Linked DNA regions of Homo sapiens: region 2 is linked to region 1. The links come from fine-mapping of genetic effects on gene expression. Tissue or cell type: whole blood. Region 1 holds a variant in brackets; the other region holds the start of a gene. All regions are shown on one strand. Distances are between the middles of the regions.

The links. PIP is the estimated chance that this variant, and not a neighbour inherited with it, causes the effect.
Region 2: TRPV2 starts here. The variant in region 1 is fine-mapped to the expression of TRPV2 in whole blood (TOPMed, PIP above 0.99).

Annotation. Positions count from the first base shown.
Region 1 is chr17:15,978,476-15,986,735 of GRCh38, reverse strand. ZSWIM7 (zinc finger SWIM-type containing 7) reads left to right here. Exons shown (of 5, transcript NM_001042697.2): 4 at 5,592-5,696. Among named protein-coding and RNA genes, the nearest start is that of ZSWIM7, 17 kb to the left of the region's middle. RefSeq lists enhancers at 3,944-4,633, 7,011-7,597, 7,598-8,183. The variant G/A (reference allele first, on the strand shown) is at 3,750.
Region 2 is chr17:16,410,808-16,418,807 of GRCh38, reverse strand. It overlaps TRPV2 (transient receptor potential cation channel subfamily V member 2), which reads right to left and starts at 3,237. Exons shown (of 15, transcript NM_016113.5): 1 at 2,975-3,237; 2 at 940-1,246. The coding sequence starts at 1,139. It also overlaps the pseudogene LOC124904150. RefSeq lists enhancers at 1,507-1,616, 1,957-2,006, 2,267-2,336, 3,287-3,406 and a silencer at 2,447-2,566.

The DNA.
Region 1 (8,260 bases):
CCCTGAACTTATTTCTCCTAACTGAAATTTTGTACCCTTTGACCAATATCTCCTTATCTTCCTCTTCCTCCCCCACCCCAAGGCCCCTGGTAACCACTATTTCTTTTTCTATGAGTTCAACTTTTTTTTTTGTTTTAAATAAAGACAGGGTCTTGCTATGTTGCCCAAGCTGGTCTTGAACTCCTGGCCTCAAGCAGTCCTCCCCCTTCAGCCTCCCAAAGTGCTAGGATTACAGGCATGAGCCATTGCACCCAGCCTATGAGTTCAACTTTTTTTAGATTCCACATATAAGTGAGATCATGTGGTATTTGTCATTCTGTACCTGGCTTATTTCACTTAGCATAGTTTCACTTAACAAAATCCTCCAGAAATTTTTGTAACTAAAATAAGATGGCCAGGCGTGGTGGCTCACGCCTGTAATCCCAGCACTTTGGGAGGCCGAGGCAGGTGGATCACCTGAGGTCAGGAGTTCAAGACCAGCCTGGCCAACGTGGTGAAACCCCGTGTCTACTAAAAATACAAAAATTAGCTGGGTGTGGTGGCAGGTGCCTGTAATTCCAGCTACTCGGGAGGTTGAGGCAGAAGAATTGCTTGAACCCAGGAGAAGGAGGTTGCAGTGAGCGGAGATCGCACCATTGCACTCCAGCCTGAGTGACGAGCAGAACTCTGTCTCAAAACAAACAAACAAACAAAAACACAAAAAAAAACTTGGATGGTATTGTCCTACTCAAAAGAGACTGCCAATTATTAGATGAATTTTCTCATGGAGAACTTAGGAATAATCAAAGTCACTGAACTTGCAGTTTGTACCTGAGGAGGTGTGTCTGTCCTCTTTCCTGGTGTTTTTATTTTTGGTTTTTAGGTAGCTAAAATACCCGAAACTAGAGGGACCTTCAAGTTTTTCCCATTGCTTTTAGTTTGGGATATTTGGTCTTGATTCCATTATGGGCACAATACTTGACCTGGCAAGTAGACTTTTGTTTGAAATAGTTTAATTACTGTTGACTTTTTGTTCCTCCCATTGGTCAACAGTAACTTAAGTCACTGGTTTAGTTTTTGTCGTTCACATCTGGTATATATTACATTGCTTTATTAATTATAAAATACTAACTTCCAAGAATTGTGGCTGTCATCTTGGACTTTGAATTAAATGAGGCTGTAGAAATCTTATACACCCTCAAATTAACCTTAATGGTTGCATTGTATGGTAATATAGTAAGAATTTGGCTGAATTCAGGAGTTGTATGAGATGATAAAAGTTGAGTCACATACTGCCTTAGTGCCCAGCTAGTTATCTTTTCATAGGTCATTCTTCATCCCATAGGTCAACTCTAATATTATTGTTCTCCAGATGTAATGTGAAATAATTCTAAAGTCATTGTTATGTTGCTGACACCTGAGTTGTTTTCTATAATTTTTTTTTTTTTTTTTTAAGGCAGAGTCTCGCTCTGTTGCCCAGGCTGGAGTGCATTGGCATGATCTTAGCTCACTGCAACCTCTGCCTCCTGGGTTCAAGTGATTCTTCTGCCTCAGCCTCCTGAGTAGCTGGGATTACAGGTGTGTACCACCACGCCTGGCTAGTTTTTGTATTTTTAGTAGAGATGGGGTTTCACCATGTTGTCCAGGCTGGTCTCAAACTCCTGACCTCAGGTGATCCACCACCTTTGCTTTCCAAAGTGCTGGGATTACAGGCGTGAGCCTGCACTCCTGGCCACTTTTTATACTTTTTTGATTCACTTAATAAGGAGGATGTTTCAGTCAGGAGAGGCTAAGTTATGCTGTGGTATCAATGACCCCAAATCTGAAAGGCTTACAAAAACAAAGTTTTAGATCTCATTCATGCTGTGTATCCACCAGGAGCCAGCTGTAGCTCTGTTCCAAAACAGCTTCATGCAGGGATCCCAGTGGGCAAAGCAGCCCATATCTGGAACACTGTGAATCTCAAAGAGAAAAAGGAAAACATGGTACACAATTTTTAACATTTTTCGCTTGGCTACTCAGATTTTACTAAAGCAGGTCACATGGCCAGCCTGTATTTAACAGGCCAGGAATGTATAATCCTGTTTTCAGAGAGAAGCACCAAACACAAGGAACAATAACAAAGACACTGTGGAGTGTCCTAAGAGGCTTGGAGCGGTCATAAAATAAAACTGTACCCATGAATGGATGACCATGTAGATGGGTCACCTCTCCTTGCGACCTAACTGAAACCACAGTAGAACCACAGTAGAAACCACCTCCAAGTGAGGTTCCTACAAGTTCTGTCAGCCATGGTCTGAGTATCCTCTTTCCAGCATGTTCCTTTTTTAAAAAGCTCTCTCCTTCTGGGGATAAACATTCCAGACTATAAGCGGGAAAACTAGGAGCAATTCCTGTAAGAGGAAGTTGTTTTTTCACTGAAGGGTGAAGGAATTGAATTATGTTATCCTTAAGGTCAATTTCCAGTTCTAAATGTTTCTAACTCAGATTTTGCCTGATTGTTGGGTTCATTAGTTGTCCACTGCTAGATAAGCGAAAAGCAAATTCGAAATTTAACCTCTTTTGGTGTTTATTGCTTTAGGCAGTTGAACATTTTGAGTCTTAGCCCTTGAAAGGCTCAGGCAAGGAAACTCTGTAGAATTTCTCCCCATCTCAAGTCACCAGCTGTTTATTCAGCATGATCCAGGGAGGATTATGATGGACGGGGACTCGCAATAAGAAGGAAGCAGTGAATTATTCTAGTCAGTACAGAATCCCAGAGGCTTCTGCTTGCTTAAGTTTAAATCTAGAGAGAAGAGACGAGATAACTAAAGGGAGAAGAAACCTAAAGTTGTATTCATTGGTAATAGTTTAGACACCCAAGAATTATAGGCCGGGAGTGGTGGTTCATGCTTGGAATCCTAGCAGTTTGGGAGGCTGAGGCGGGTGGATCACCTCAGGTCAGGAGTTCAAGACCAGCCTGGCCAACATGGCAAAACCCCATCTCTACTAAAAATACAAAAGTTAGCCAGGCATGGTGGCACATGCCTGTAATCCCAGCTAATCAGGCGGCTGAGGCAGGAGAATGGCTTGAACCCAGGAGGTGGAGGTTGCAGTGAGCCAAGATTGCATCATTGCACTCCAGCCTGGGCAACAAAATGAAACTCTGTCTCAAAAAAAAGAATTATACATGTCACTGCTGGATGTTGTGGGTTTTTTCTTTAGGATTAAGTAGAAAACAATCTGCTTTAATGCTCTTCCTTCAGTGTAAGCTTCCACACATGCTGGGGAAATCTCTCCATTGATACTGAATGGTCTCGGTGATATGTTCATAACACATCAGAGCCTTGCAGTAGGTAATATGCAAGGTGTGCTTTTTCAACACCTAATTTGTAACTGGGTGGAAATCTTTTTTTTTTTTTTTTTTTTTTTTGAGACAGAGTCTTGCCCTGTCACCCAGGCTGGAGTACAGTGATGCAGTCTTGGCCCACTGCCACCTCTGTCTCCCGGGTTCAAGTGATTCTCCTGCCTCAGCCTCCTGAGTAGCTGGGATTACAGGCACCCGCCACCACACCTGGCTAATTTTTGTATTTTTAGTAGAGATGGGGTTTCACCATATTGACCAGGCTGGTCTTGAACTCCTGACCTCATGATCCACCCGCCTCAGCCTCCCAAAGTGCTGGGATTACAGACGTGAGCCACTATGCCCGGCCTGAACTGAAATCTTGAATGTGTTCAGTAGGCATCTTCTTACCCAATCATTGGCTATTTCTGGTAACCTAAAATCTCCC[G/A]AGGAATTCTGACTGCGTCAAAAAACCATACTGAGGCTGGGTGTGGTAGCTCATGCCTGTAATCCCAGTGCTTTGGGAGGCCAAGGTGGGAGGATCACTTAAGCCCAGCAGTTAAAGACCAGCCTGGACAACATAGCAAGACCCCATCTCTACAAAAAAAATTTTAAAATTAGCATAGGGTGGTGGCGCACACCAGTACTCCTACCTCCTCAGGAGACTGAAGTGGGAGGATCACTTTAGCCGAGGGATTCAAGACTGCAATGAGCTATGATCTGCCACTGTACTCCAGCCTGGATGACAGAACAACATCCTGTCTCCAAAAAACAAAAATTAAAAAAAAATGTTAATAAAAGCTGTACTGGGATAACTGCATTATATGAACCACTGAAAATGTGACAAAAGCACAGCAGTGGAACCTGCTGTTTGTTCTTGCAGTCAAACCATACCTGTAGCTTTATTCTCTGTGGGTAAGAAAGATTAAAGAATCCTAGGAGTGCTAACATTGTAATTCAAAAAAAATTTAAAAGTCCTTGCTTTTTCATTTAGATTGCCATCTGAGAGCCTAAAAGTGCTTTGAAGGCTGTGTGGCAAATTCCTAAGTGGCAGTTCATTATAAAATCACCCTCAGGACATTTCTGCTTCCCTCAGATACTAATAATAATCTTACGCCTCCAGGTGGGAAGTTAACTCTAGGAATGAAGACCTCAACAAAAAGTTTTTGGCTGCTTGGTGGTAGAGAGACTTAAACAAAGGATTTCTCCAGCAAATTTGTGCGATCATACTACAGATGTGTCTTGTTTCTCCTGTACCTCTCCTTTTTGTCCCTCTTGACCACCACCAAGACTGTTAGACTGTGCCTCTTATCAACCCACTATGTATCAGTGTCCTCCTTCCATCCTGCTAGATGAGTAGGCAGATCTGGGCCTGCCTCTTTTCCTGAGACCTCCATCCTGAACAGCTGAGTCATTCCTTTCGCAAGGGTCTTTGCTTTATTTATTCTCTCTGCTCTCAAATGCTTTTCAAAAGCCTCTTCCCAGTTTCTTCTTTTGTTCTTCTGTGACCTATCTTTATTTTAGAGATGGGATCTTTGTCACCCAGGCTGCAGTGCAGTGGTGCAGTCACAGCTCACTGCAGCCTTGACCTCCCAGGCTCAAGCAGTCCTCCCTTCTCAGCCTCCTGAGTAGCTGGGACTACTGGCATGTGCCACCATACCTGACTTTAAAAAAATTTTTTTTTCTATAGAAACGAGGTCTCACCATGTTGCCCATGCTGGTCTTGAACTCTGGGGGGGGTCAAGTGATCCTCCCACCTCGACCTCCCAAAGTGCTGGGATTACAGGCTTTGAGCCACCACACCCGGCCTGAGACTTATCTTACTCCTGCCCTGCTACTGACCCTTTGCCTGTTTTTACTCTCTCTTTAGGTATGTAGGAAGCTTTAGAAATTTATACACCTGCTGTGAAATACCAAAGGTTAAGAACCCCCACAATAAAATGTAGATGAGAGATTCCCCCCCCCCACTTCCTTCTTATTACAGTCAGCCCATAGAGTGGGCCCCATGAATCACTAGGCGTAGGAACAGAATGGTTTATGTGGTTGGTTGAACTAATCTGAAACTCTTCAGTTCCTTTATATGCTGTCCTAAAGGTGAGCACTGAGAGGTGAGGAAGGGAGAGTCTGTACACTGGAGGAAGAGAAGTTGTTTCCTCTTTTATGTAAAACATTACTGCAGTTCTTCTCGGTGCAATTTGCAGAGCAACTCTGAGTCTACATAAATAAAAAGGGAAAGAGGTGGTTTTTCCAGCACATCTGAGGTCTGATCCCATCTATCCTTTCTTTGTAGGTCCTTGGAAGTTCCAGTAAAACATACACATGTTTGGCTTCTTGTCATTACTGTTCATGTCCTGCATTTGCATTCTCAGTGCTACGGAAGAGTGACAGCATCCTGGTGAGGATGGGGAAGACTCTTCCCACTGTAGTTGAATGTAGAGAGAAATTGCCCTTACTTTGTGGTTTAACTATTCTACAAAATGGGAATCTTATTATATGTTGAAACAAATGGTAGTTTTTTGTCTTTGTCTTCAGTTAGTCACCTCTTAGGGGTTTAGCCTCTCAAAATGCAATGTCATTTTTAGAACTGCATCAATTTCCTGAATTTTTATGTAAAAGATCATGAGTGAAGCTTTGAGAAGGAAAAAAAGGGAATCCCAGAAGTGGGCACTGGGGAATTAGATGGCCCCATAAAAATATGAACTAAATTCGATGTTGACAACTTTGCATATCCTACTTTCAGCCATGTGGTATATCTTTGCACTACCTGTGAGACAGCCTGACACCACACTTGACCTTCACATGGGGCATGAGTACCTTCACCTATTCCTTTAAGCCTTTGCCAATTTCATCAGAGTCCAGACCATGAAGCAGAAACAGGACATACTCACACACACCTTATTCCAAAGGAAAAAACACTACCTTCCTGAAAGCAGGCAGCTGTTTTCTAAGTCTTGCGAAAGAAGAAAATAATGATGTCCACTCCATTCTTTCCCTTTCTTTTACACTGTTAACTTCTTAAACATCTTGGGACCTGGCTGGCAAGTTGGGTATAGCATTGTCCAAGAGGCCACATTCGTAACTGATGTGCCCTAAGTGTATCTCAACTGCAAGAGACAGGATTGAACCAAAACCCCTTCAAGATCTAAAGCTGTGTTCTCTGACATCAGATTCAACGCAATCATCTCCCCAGAGGTGTGTACAGGCCAATATATGCAAGAGTTTTGCCACTACTCCCCGCCCCCCAACCCCAGAAGTATAACACAGTAGTTAAGAGAGTAGCCTAGACCAGCCGCCTCGTCCGGGAGGTGAGGGGCGCCTCTGCCCGGCCGCCCCTACTGGGAAGTGAGGAGCCCCTCTGCCCGGCCAGCCGCCCCGTCCGGGAGGGAGGTGGGGGGGTCAGCCCCCCGCCCGGCCAGCCGCCTCGTCCGGGAGATGAGGGGCACCTCTGCCCGGCTGCCCCTACTGGGAAGTGAGGAGCCCCTCTGCCCGGCCAGCCGCCCCGTCCGGGAGGGAGGTGGGGGGTTCAGCCCCCCGTCCGGGAGGGAGGTGGGGGGGTCAGCCCCCCGCCCGGCCAGCCGCCCCGTCCGGGAGGGAGGTGGGGGGGTCAGCCCCCCGTCCGGGAGGGAGGTGGGGGGGTCAGCCCCCCGCCCGGCCAGCCGCCCCATCCGGGAGGTGAGGGGCGCCTCTGCCCAGCCGCCCCTACTGGGAAGTGAGGAGCCCCTCTGCCCGGCCAGCCGCCCCATTCGGGAGGGAGGTGGGGGGGGTCAGTCCTCCGCCCAGCCAGCCGCCCCGTCCGGGAGGGAGGTGGGGGGGTCAGCCCCCCGCCTGGCCAGCCGCCTCGTCCGGGAGGTGAGGGGCGCCTCTGCCCGGCCACCCCTACTGGGAAGTGAGGAGCCCCTCTGCCCGGCCACCACCCCGTCTGGGAGGTGTACCCAACAGCTCATTGAGAGCGGGCCATGATGACAATGGCGGTTTTGTGGAATAGAAAGCAGGGAAAGGTAGGGAAAAGATTGAGAAATTGGATGGTTGCTGTGTCTGTGTGGAAAGAAGTAGACATGGGAGACTTTCCATTTTGTTCTGTACTAAGAAAAATTCTTCTGCCTTGGGATCCTGTTGATCTGTGACCTTACCCCCAACCCTGTGCTCTCTGAAACATGTGCTGTGTCCACTCAGGGTTAAATGGATTAAGGGCGGTGCAAGATGTGCTTTGATAAACAGATGCTTGAAGGCAGCATGCTCGTTAAGAGTCATCACCACTCCCTAATCTCAAGTACCCAGGGACACAAACACTGCGGAAGGCCGCAGGGTCCTCTGCCTAGGAAAACCAGAGACCTTTGTTCACTTGTTTATCTGCTGACCTTCCCTCCACTATTGTCCTATGACCCTGCCAAATCCCCCTCTGTGAGAAACACCCAAGAATGATCAATAAAAATAAATAAATAAATAAATAAAACAAAAATTAAAATTAAAATTAAAAAAAAAAAAAAGAGAGAGTAGCCTAGAGACTCTGATGAGCATGTGGTTACAATACCTGTCTTCCTAGGGAGCTGTCAGATTTCAGTGAGATAATCTATGAGAAGCACTTCACAGCCTAGTGCCTCAAGGAATGTTAACCATTGCTGTGACAGCTTTCTGAAGGCAAGGAAGAAATATAACTTAGGACTAACGTGAGGAGTGCAGGTAGTCTGGGTTTTCACCATGGGTTACATACCTTGTGCCTGATGGATCTAAGCCATTTCCCAAAGCAGCAGGCAAAGTAAGTCTGTGTCCACTCTGATTTCTAAAGAGAATACTCCTGTCTCATCATCTTTATCTGCAGTTTTTATTTATTTATTTTTTGAGACAGTCTGGCTCTGTCACCCAGGCTGTAGTGCAGTGGCGTGATCTCGGCTCACTGCAACCTCCACCTCCTGGGTTCAAGCGATTCTCATGGCTCAGCCTCCTGAGTAGCTGGAATTA
Region 2 (8,000 bases), 430 kb before region 1:
CTGGCAGAAGTGGCCATTTGGACAAAGAACTTTCTGTCACCAGGGTGGCATCATGGTCCTGGGGTAGGGAAGCCCATTGAGGGCACAGATTGAGGTACTGAAAGCATCAAGGGCCCGTCCTGCCTGTGTCGGGCAGGCTCCACAGCTCCCAGAATCTCCTCATGCATCCTCCCCTACCCTGGTGCTGAATCTGACCACTGTCCTCCAGCACAAACAGGAAGCAGCTCTAGCCTGCGAGGCCAAAGCTGGTGGCTGTACCTCAAGCATGAGAAGGGAAGAAGGGGCTTCTGTGGCAGAGTCTAGCCTGGCCCATGAGGATTCTCCAGCCTCACTGGGCAGGCCCCGCCCCCGGGCAGGGAAGTAGGGGGTGCCAAATGCAGCAGGACTGGAAGTGGGACTCTCAGGAATGTGGTGCTCACACAGTCTGAATTGGTGGAAAGACCACAGGAAAATCAAAGTGCAGATGACTCCAAGCAGAAGCCTGTCATCCCCAATCCCACAGTTCACGTCCCCTGAGTGACAGGCTCAGTCTTGCAGAACTGAGGAGAGCCTGGGACATTTCCAGATGTCCTTGATTCTCACTGGATGGAGTGTGGATCCTGCTGCCTTCCCCAACAGGGACCATGACAGGGGTGGGAGTTGGCATGAACAGGGGGATTTGAGGGTCAGTTGAGGACTTAGAGCTCAAGAATGTATCTCATGAAGAACATGACCTCAGAAGGCAGAAGGCCAAGAATGGGGAAGCCTCTGGAAAGAGCAATGCCAGATGGCAGAGCAGAGGCAGCCTGTCGGGCCCAGGAGCCACCAGGGCCAGACTGAGGACTCCACAGGCTGTGGGAAGGGGCACTGGTGCTGGACTAGTCAATGAGTCTCACTCCGGGTGCTCTGCTGGAGCTGGGCAGGGGGCCCCCTTTGCCCTGCCCCCACTTGCTGTCTCACCTGGCACCTGTTCCCTTTCGGTAGTTGAGGTTGACTCTTATCTGAGGGGCGAATTTCCGGTCCTCGCCCTGGAACTGTGACTCCATGGGAGGCAGCCCGCTCCCAAAATCCAGCTTTCCTCTGTCCGCCTCAGAGCCATCTTCTTGGCCTCCATCTAATGTCTCCAACCTGAAAACTGGAGAGCTGGAGGGTGAGGTCATCCTAGGAGGAGGAGGCTGCTCGGTCCAGCCAGGACCTCTGTGCAGATGGAGATGTCAAGGGTCCTGTCTTCCTCCCAGCTGCGCGTCGGTGTTGGCCTGACTGGAGCCTGCAAAAGGAGGTATTAGGTTAGTGCAAAAGGCTGGGCGTGGTGGCTGGGTGTAATCCCAGCACTTTGGGAGGCTGAGGCTGGCTGGTCAGCTGTTAGAGACCAGCCTGACCAACATGGTGAAACCCCATCTCCACTAAAAAAAATACAAAAATTAGCTGGGCATGGTGGCTTGTGCCTGTAATCCCAGCTACTAGGGAGGGTGAGGCAGGAGAATTGCTTAAACCCGGAAGCTAAGATGGCACCACTGCACTCCAGCCTGGGCAACAGAGCAAGACTCTGTCTCAAAAAAAAAAAAAAAAAAAATTGCGGTTTTTGCCATTACTTCTCATTACTTCTAATGGCAAAAATGCCAAGTGCAAGTAGGTCCACCCACTGTGTGGGAGCCCAGCCCCAATGCAGGGGAAGTGGGCCAGGAGGGATGAGCAGCAGGGGTGAGGAGAGGGAGGGAGGCCTGTGGGGTGAGGAACAGGGAACCAATAGGGCCACCCTTTTGATGTTGTCCCCCAGGAAGAGCCATGACTGTCCCCGACTTTTCCTCTGGGACTTCCTGGAATCTGAGGGGTCACAACCCCTGTTACCATTTACATTAACAGCACAACCCTTTCTTTACACAACGTCTTGCCTGGCAGCCAATATTCCAACAGATAAAAGTGCGATGACTGGGATGGGGCCAGTCACTCAACCCCTCGCCAAAGAAGGGGAGCTCTAAGAAGAAATAACTGGGAAAACCACTAGACTATCAAACCCTTCATTTTGCTGCCAAGACTACTAAGGCTTAGAAAGGGGGAGTGGCTTTCCCAAGGTCGCCAGTTGTTGGCAGAGCCGGATCTGACACCATGCGTCTACCATGACGTTCCTCTTCCGTTTTCAAAGCCTTTCAGGGTCTGTCTATATTTTCAGTCTGATTCAGCTCTGAAGGCATCGAATACTACCTTTGTGTGCCTCAGGGCCTCTGGGGGCTTCACGAAGGGAGGGAGGCCCCTAGCCTGTGGCCCAGGCTCTCTCCACCACGCTGCCTCAGGCCCTAGGCTGGCCTAGGAAGCTCAGCAAACAGCACAATCTCACCCTCACAGGAAAACTGAAACCACAGCCTCCATCACTTGGCAAGGGTGGGGCCTCGGTCAGGGTTGGGGAACCCTCATGGGCCCAGTGAGCAGGATCAGAAAGAAGAAGGAGTCAAAGAGTGGTAAGGAGACAGAAGGGTGGAGAAGGGGGCAGGGGGCAGGGGGCAGAGAGCAGAGAGGAGCGGCACCAGCAGAGGGAAGTGGAGAGGGTAGGCTGGGACCAGGCCCTGGGGACCCGGGTGGGGTATTTTCCCATGGAAACATGGGAGGTGGGGAGCTGCCTGGCTGCCTCAGTTTGCAGATGTGACCCACCACCCTTTCTACACACACTGGGGCAGAAGGGTGCTCTTTCCGTTTCATACCGTTTAGCCCATCTGTGTCCCCAACCAAACCCTGGCCCATTCCTCCAGCCCTAGACTCCCAAGCCCCAGCAGCAACAGTTGTCTGTCCAGCCCCCACCCCACCTCCTGGGACCCTCACCCACCCTGGCAGCAGAGGAAGGGGTGTGGAGGTCCAGGGAGAGGGTGCTGGAGCCCCACACAGACCCTGGCTCCAGGCTGTAGAAGCCAGGAGCCCACTAGGCCTTCCCCACCCCATCATTCACTGTCAGGCTTGGAGACCCGGCCCCCTCCAACGTCCCCAGCATTGCCCACCGACTTACCCCGCAGGCTGAGGCCAGGGCGTGGCGGCTGCTGGGATCCCGGAGCTTCTCAGTAGCAGGGGCTGCGGGAGGAAGTGAAGCCGGGAGGGGCTGCCGGCGCTGACAGCAGAGGAGCGGCGGAACCTCCCTCCCCAGCTCTGAGCACTAAGCTCCAGCAAGCAGGTTCTGGTCTCTCGGTCACCCTCAGCCCACCTGGCCAGCCGGCACGGTGGAGAACGGGAGCTTAACTCTCCCCTGTCAGGACAGGCTAGCCACCAGAGACTGACCATCTGGACACACCCTGCTGCGAATCAGGCTCCACCCCCACCCCTCCCCCTTCTAGCCACTAAGGTCTCAGGTGGGGGTGGGTGACACTCAGAGGCAGCCCTTGGATGCTGGGGACTTGCCACCCATGGAAGCTGCCATGGATGGGGGATTCTTCCCCAAGTCCACTGACAGCTATCTCCTCCCCTTCTCCACCACATGCCTTCCAAGCAGCCGTGTGGCCCATAAATGGGCCTGAGTTGACCCATGGCAGGGGAGAAAGCTGATGTGGACAGCCCCCAGGGAGAGGCTCAGCCCAGCAGATGCCCCTGGGAACACAGTCCCACCCACCCATCCACCCAGCAGTTGGGGGACTTTCCCACCTCCCAGGACCTTCTCCCAGCCTCCTGACCCCAGGACTCTGATGGCTAAAGTTCCCCTAAAGGTGCTCCAAGCACCAGCCAGCAGGTGGAGACAAGGAGGTGGGCACGCACTGCTAAAATCAGACCTCACCACCAACGGGGCCCTGGTCTGGACTCAGTCTTGGAGCTTGGGGACCCAACCACCACCGAAGTAGCCCTAGGAATCTCTCTCCCTCACTCCCAAAACCTGGCATCAGCTCTTCCTCCAAAATTTGTCTTTCTGAGTGGTCCAAGCCACTATCACTGCTCCCCTGGGCAACTGCAGCCACCTCCAAACTGGTCTCCCTGCTTCATTCTTGCCCCACACTCATAATCCATTTCTCCTTATAGCAACTGAAGTGACCTTTTAAAAATGGGAACCAGGGCCGGGCGCAGTGGCTCACACCTGTAATCCCAGCACTTTGGGAGGCCGAGGTGCATGGATCACTTGAGGTCAGGAGTTCAAGACCAGCCTGGCTAACATGGCAAAACCCCATCTCTACTAAAAATACAAATATTAGCTGGATATGGTGGTGGGCACCTGTAATCTCAGCTACTTGGGAGGCTGACGCAGGAGAATCGCTTGAACCTGGGAGGCGGAAGTTGCAGTGAGCTGAGATTGTGCCACTGCACACCAGCCTGGACAACAGAGCGAGACTCTGTGTCAAAAAAGAAAAAAAAAGAAAACCAGGTCACCTAACGCCTTGACTTAATCACAAAACCTCACCCATGGTGCTTGGAATAAAATGCAAACTCCATACCATGAGCCCTCAAAGTCCAGATGCCCTTCTCCATCGCTATCCGTCACTCATGGCAACCCTGTCATGCACATTACACTCTAGGCCTGCGCCATCCAATAAGATAGTCACTAGCCACAATGACTGTTTAGATTTAAATCAATTATAATAGGCCTCACGCTTGTAATCCCAGCACTTTGGGAAGCTGAGGTGGGTGGATCACCTGAGGTCAGGAGTTCCAGACCTGCCTGACCAACATAGTGAAACCCCATCTCTACTAAAAATACAAAATTAGTCCAGGCGCGGTGGCTCATACCTGTAATCCCAGCACTTTGGGAAGCCAAGGTAGGTGGATCACTTGAGGTGAGGAATTCGAGACCAGCCTGGCCAATATGGCAAAACCCCATTTCTCCTAAAAATAAAAAAAAATAGCCAGGCGTAGTGGCACGTGCCTGTAATCCCAGCTACTTGGGAGGCTGAGGCAGGAGAATCGCTTAAACCTGGGAGGCAGAGCTTGCAGTGAGCCAAGATTGTGCCATTGCACTCCAGCCTGGACAACAAGAGGGAAACTCTGTCTCAAAAATAAATACATAATAAAATAACAGTAAACATTCAGTTCTGCTGTCCCATTAGCCACATTTTAAATGCTCAGTTGGCACATGTGGCTAGTGGCTACCATATCGGATAGCACACAGATGACAAATTTTTCTTTTTTTCTTTCTTTTTTTTTTTTTTTTCTGAGACGGAGTTTCATTCTTGTTGCCCAGGCTGGAGTGTAATGGCACGATCTCAGCTCGCCGCAACCTCCGCCTCCTAGGTTCAAGTGATTCTCCTGCCTCAGCCTCCTGAGTAGCTGTGATTACAGGCATGCACCACCATGTCTGGCTAATTTTGTATTTTTAGTAGAGACGGGGTTTCTCTATGTTGGTCAGGCTGGTCTCAAACTCCCGACCTCAGGAGCTCCGCCCACCTCAGCCTCCCAAAGTGCTGGGATTACAGGCGTGAGCCACCGTGCCAGCCTGAGACATTTTTCATAAACATAGAGTTCTATTAGACAGCACTGCTCTAGACATTCTGAACACATTTCAGTCTCCCCAGTATGCCATGCCTCTTCTGTTCCACCTGCCAGGAACACACACACACACACACACACACACACACACTGCTCTTGATCTGATCTAGCCAACTCCTGCTCATCCATCATCTCTCAATTTAAGCATCACTTCCTTTAGATAGCCTTTCCTAGACCCTGGACTGGGCTGGGGATCGCCACTATGTGCTCCCATGACACTCTGTACTTCCCCCACATCTCATTATCCGTTACTGTAATATTTATTATATTGTCTGGCTTCACTTTTTTTTTTTTTTTGAGACGGAGTCTCATTCTGTTGCCCAGGCTGGAGCGCAGTGGCATGATCTTGGCTCACTGCAACCTCCACCTCCCAGATTCAAGTGATTCTCCTGCCTCAGCCTCCCCAGTAGCTAGGATTACAGGCACGCGCCACGACACCCGGCTAACTTTTGTATTTTTAGTAGAGACAGGGTTTCACCATGTTGGCCAGGCTGGTCTCGAACTCCTGACCTCAAGTGATCCGGCCACCTCCGCCTCCCAAAGTGCTGAGATTACAGGCATGAGCCACTGTCCCCGCCTTCACCTTTAACAATAAAAAATACTTACGGAGCACTCACTATGCACCAGACACTGTGCTAAGCGCTCAACATGTAACTCCCAGAGCAACCTTATTTCACAGACAAGAAAACTGAGCATGGGTAAGGCCAAGGCCACAAGGCTGGGAGGTGAGAAAGCAAGGATTCAAGTCCAGGGCCACAGGCTTACCACCATACTTTCCAAGGGGTGAGATCTTGCTTTGTTGCTGTATCCCCAGCAACCAGCACAGTGCCTGGCATCCAAGTGGTGCTCAAGAAGGCTTTGAATGACAGGATGGCTTATAATCATAGTGCAGAGGGCACTGCTGTGCTGTTGAGAAAAAAGTGAAAAGTGGACAACCTGAAGTCCTCCAGAGCCATCACCACATCCGGTGAAAATGACAATTGGGTAGACAGATAACCTTAATTGCAAATTCTGGTTACAAAAAGGCCTTGGATTGTAGCCATCAGGGAAAGGCAAATCAAAAGCACAATGTGGTCCCACTTCACACTACTAACATAGCTATTATAAAAAGACATGTAACAACAAAGTGTTGGCAAGGGTGTGGAGAAATTGGACCTGTCCTACACTCCTGGGAGATTGTAAAATGGTGCAACTACTTTGGAAAACAGTCCGGCTGCTCCTCAAAAGATTAAACATAGAGAGCTGGGCGCGGTGGTTCACTCCTGTAATCCCAGCATGTTGGGAGGCCGAGGTGAGTGGATCATCTGAGGTCAGGCATTTGAGACCAGCCTGGCCAACATGGCGAAAACCCTCCTCTATCAAAAATGAAAAAATTAGGCCGGGTGCGGTGGCTCAGGCCTGTAATCCCAGCACTTTGGGCAGCCGAGGCAGGCGCATCACCTGAGGTCAGGAGTTCGAGAGCAGCCTGGCCAACATGGCAAAACCTTGTTTCTACTAAAAATGCAAAAATTAGCCAGGCATGGTGGTGGACGCCTGTAATCCCAGTTACTCCAGAGGCTGAGGAAGGAGAATCACTTGAACCCGGGAGGCAGAGGTTGCAGTGAGCTGAGATCGCCCCATTGCACTCCAGCCTGGGCGACAGAGCAAGAGTCTGTCTCAAAAAAAAAAAAAAAAAAAAAAATTAGCAGGGCATGGTGGCACATGCCTATAATCCCAGCTACTGGGGAGGCTGAGGCAGGAGAATTGCTTGAACCTGGATGGTGGAGGTTGCAGTGAGCTGAGATCCTGCCATTGCACTGCAGCCTGGACAACAGAGCAAGGCTGTCTCAAAAAAAAAAAAAAAAAAAAGGGCCAGGCGCGGTGGCTCACACCTGTAATCCCAACATTTTGGGAGGCCAAGGCGGGTGGATCACGAGGTCAGGAGATCGAGACCATCCTGGCTAACATGGTGAAACCCTGTTTCTACTAAAAATACAAAAAAAAATTAGCCGGGCGTGGTGGCGGGCGCCTGTAGTCCCAGCTACTTGGGAGGCTGAGGCGGGAGAATAGCATAAACCTGGGAGGCGGAGCTTGCAGTGAGCCGAGATAGTGCCACCGCTGCACTCCAGCCTGGGCAACAGAGTGAGACTCTGTCTCAAAAAAAAAAAAATAAAATAAACATAGTTACCATACGACCCAGCAATTCCACTCCTAGGTATGTACTCAAAGAAATGGAAACATATGTCCATACACACTTGTACATGAATGTTTACAGCAGCATTATTCATAATAACCAAATAGAAACACCCCAAATGATGATTAACTGATGACGAATGGATACATAAAATGTGGCATATCCATTTAATGGAATATTATTTGGCCACAAAAAGAGAAATTAAGTACTGATGTACACTATAGCATGGAAGAAACTTGAAAAATTAGGTTAAATGAAAGAAGTCAGTCACAAAAATCACACACTGCATGATTCCATTTATTTATTTTTATTTTTATTACATCCTCAGATAAGGGACACGTCAAACTGATAAGAACAGATACTACACTTGATTTTAGCTGAAAGGTCAAGAAGTAATCTG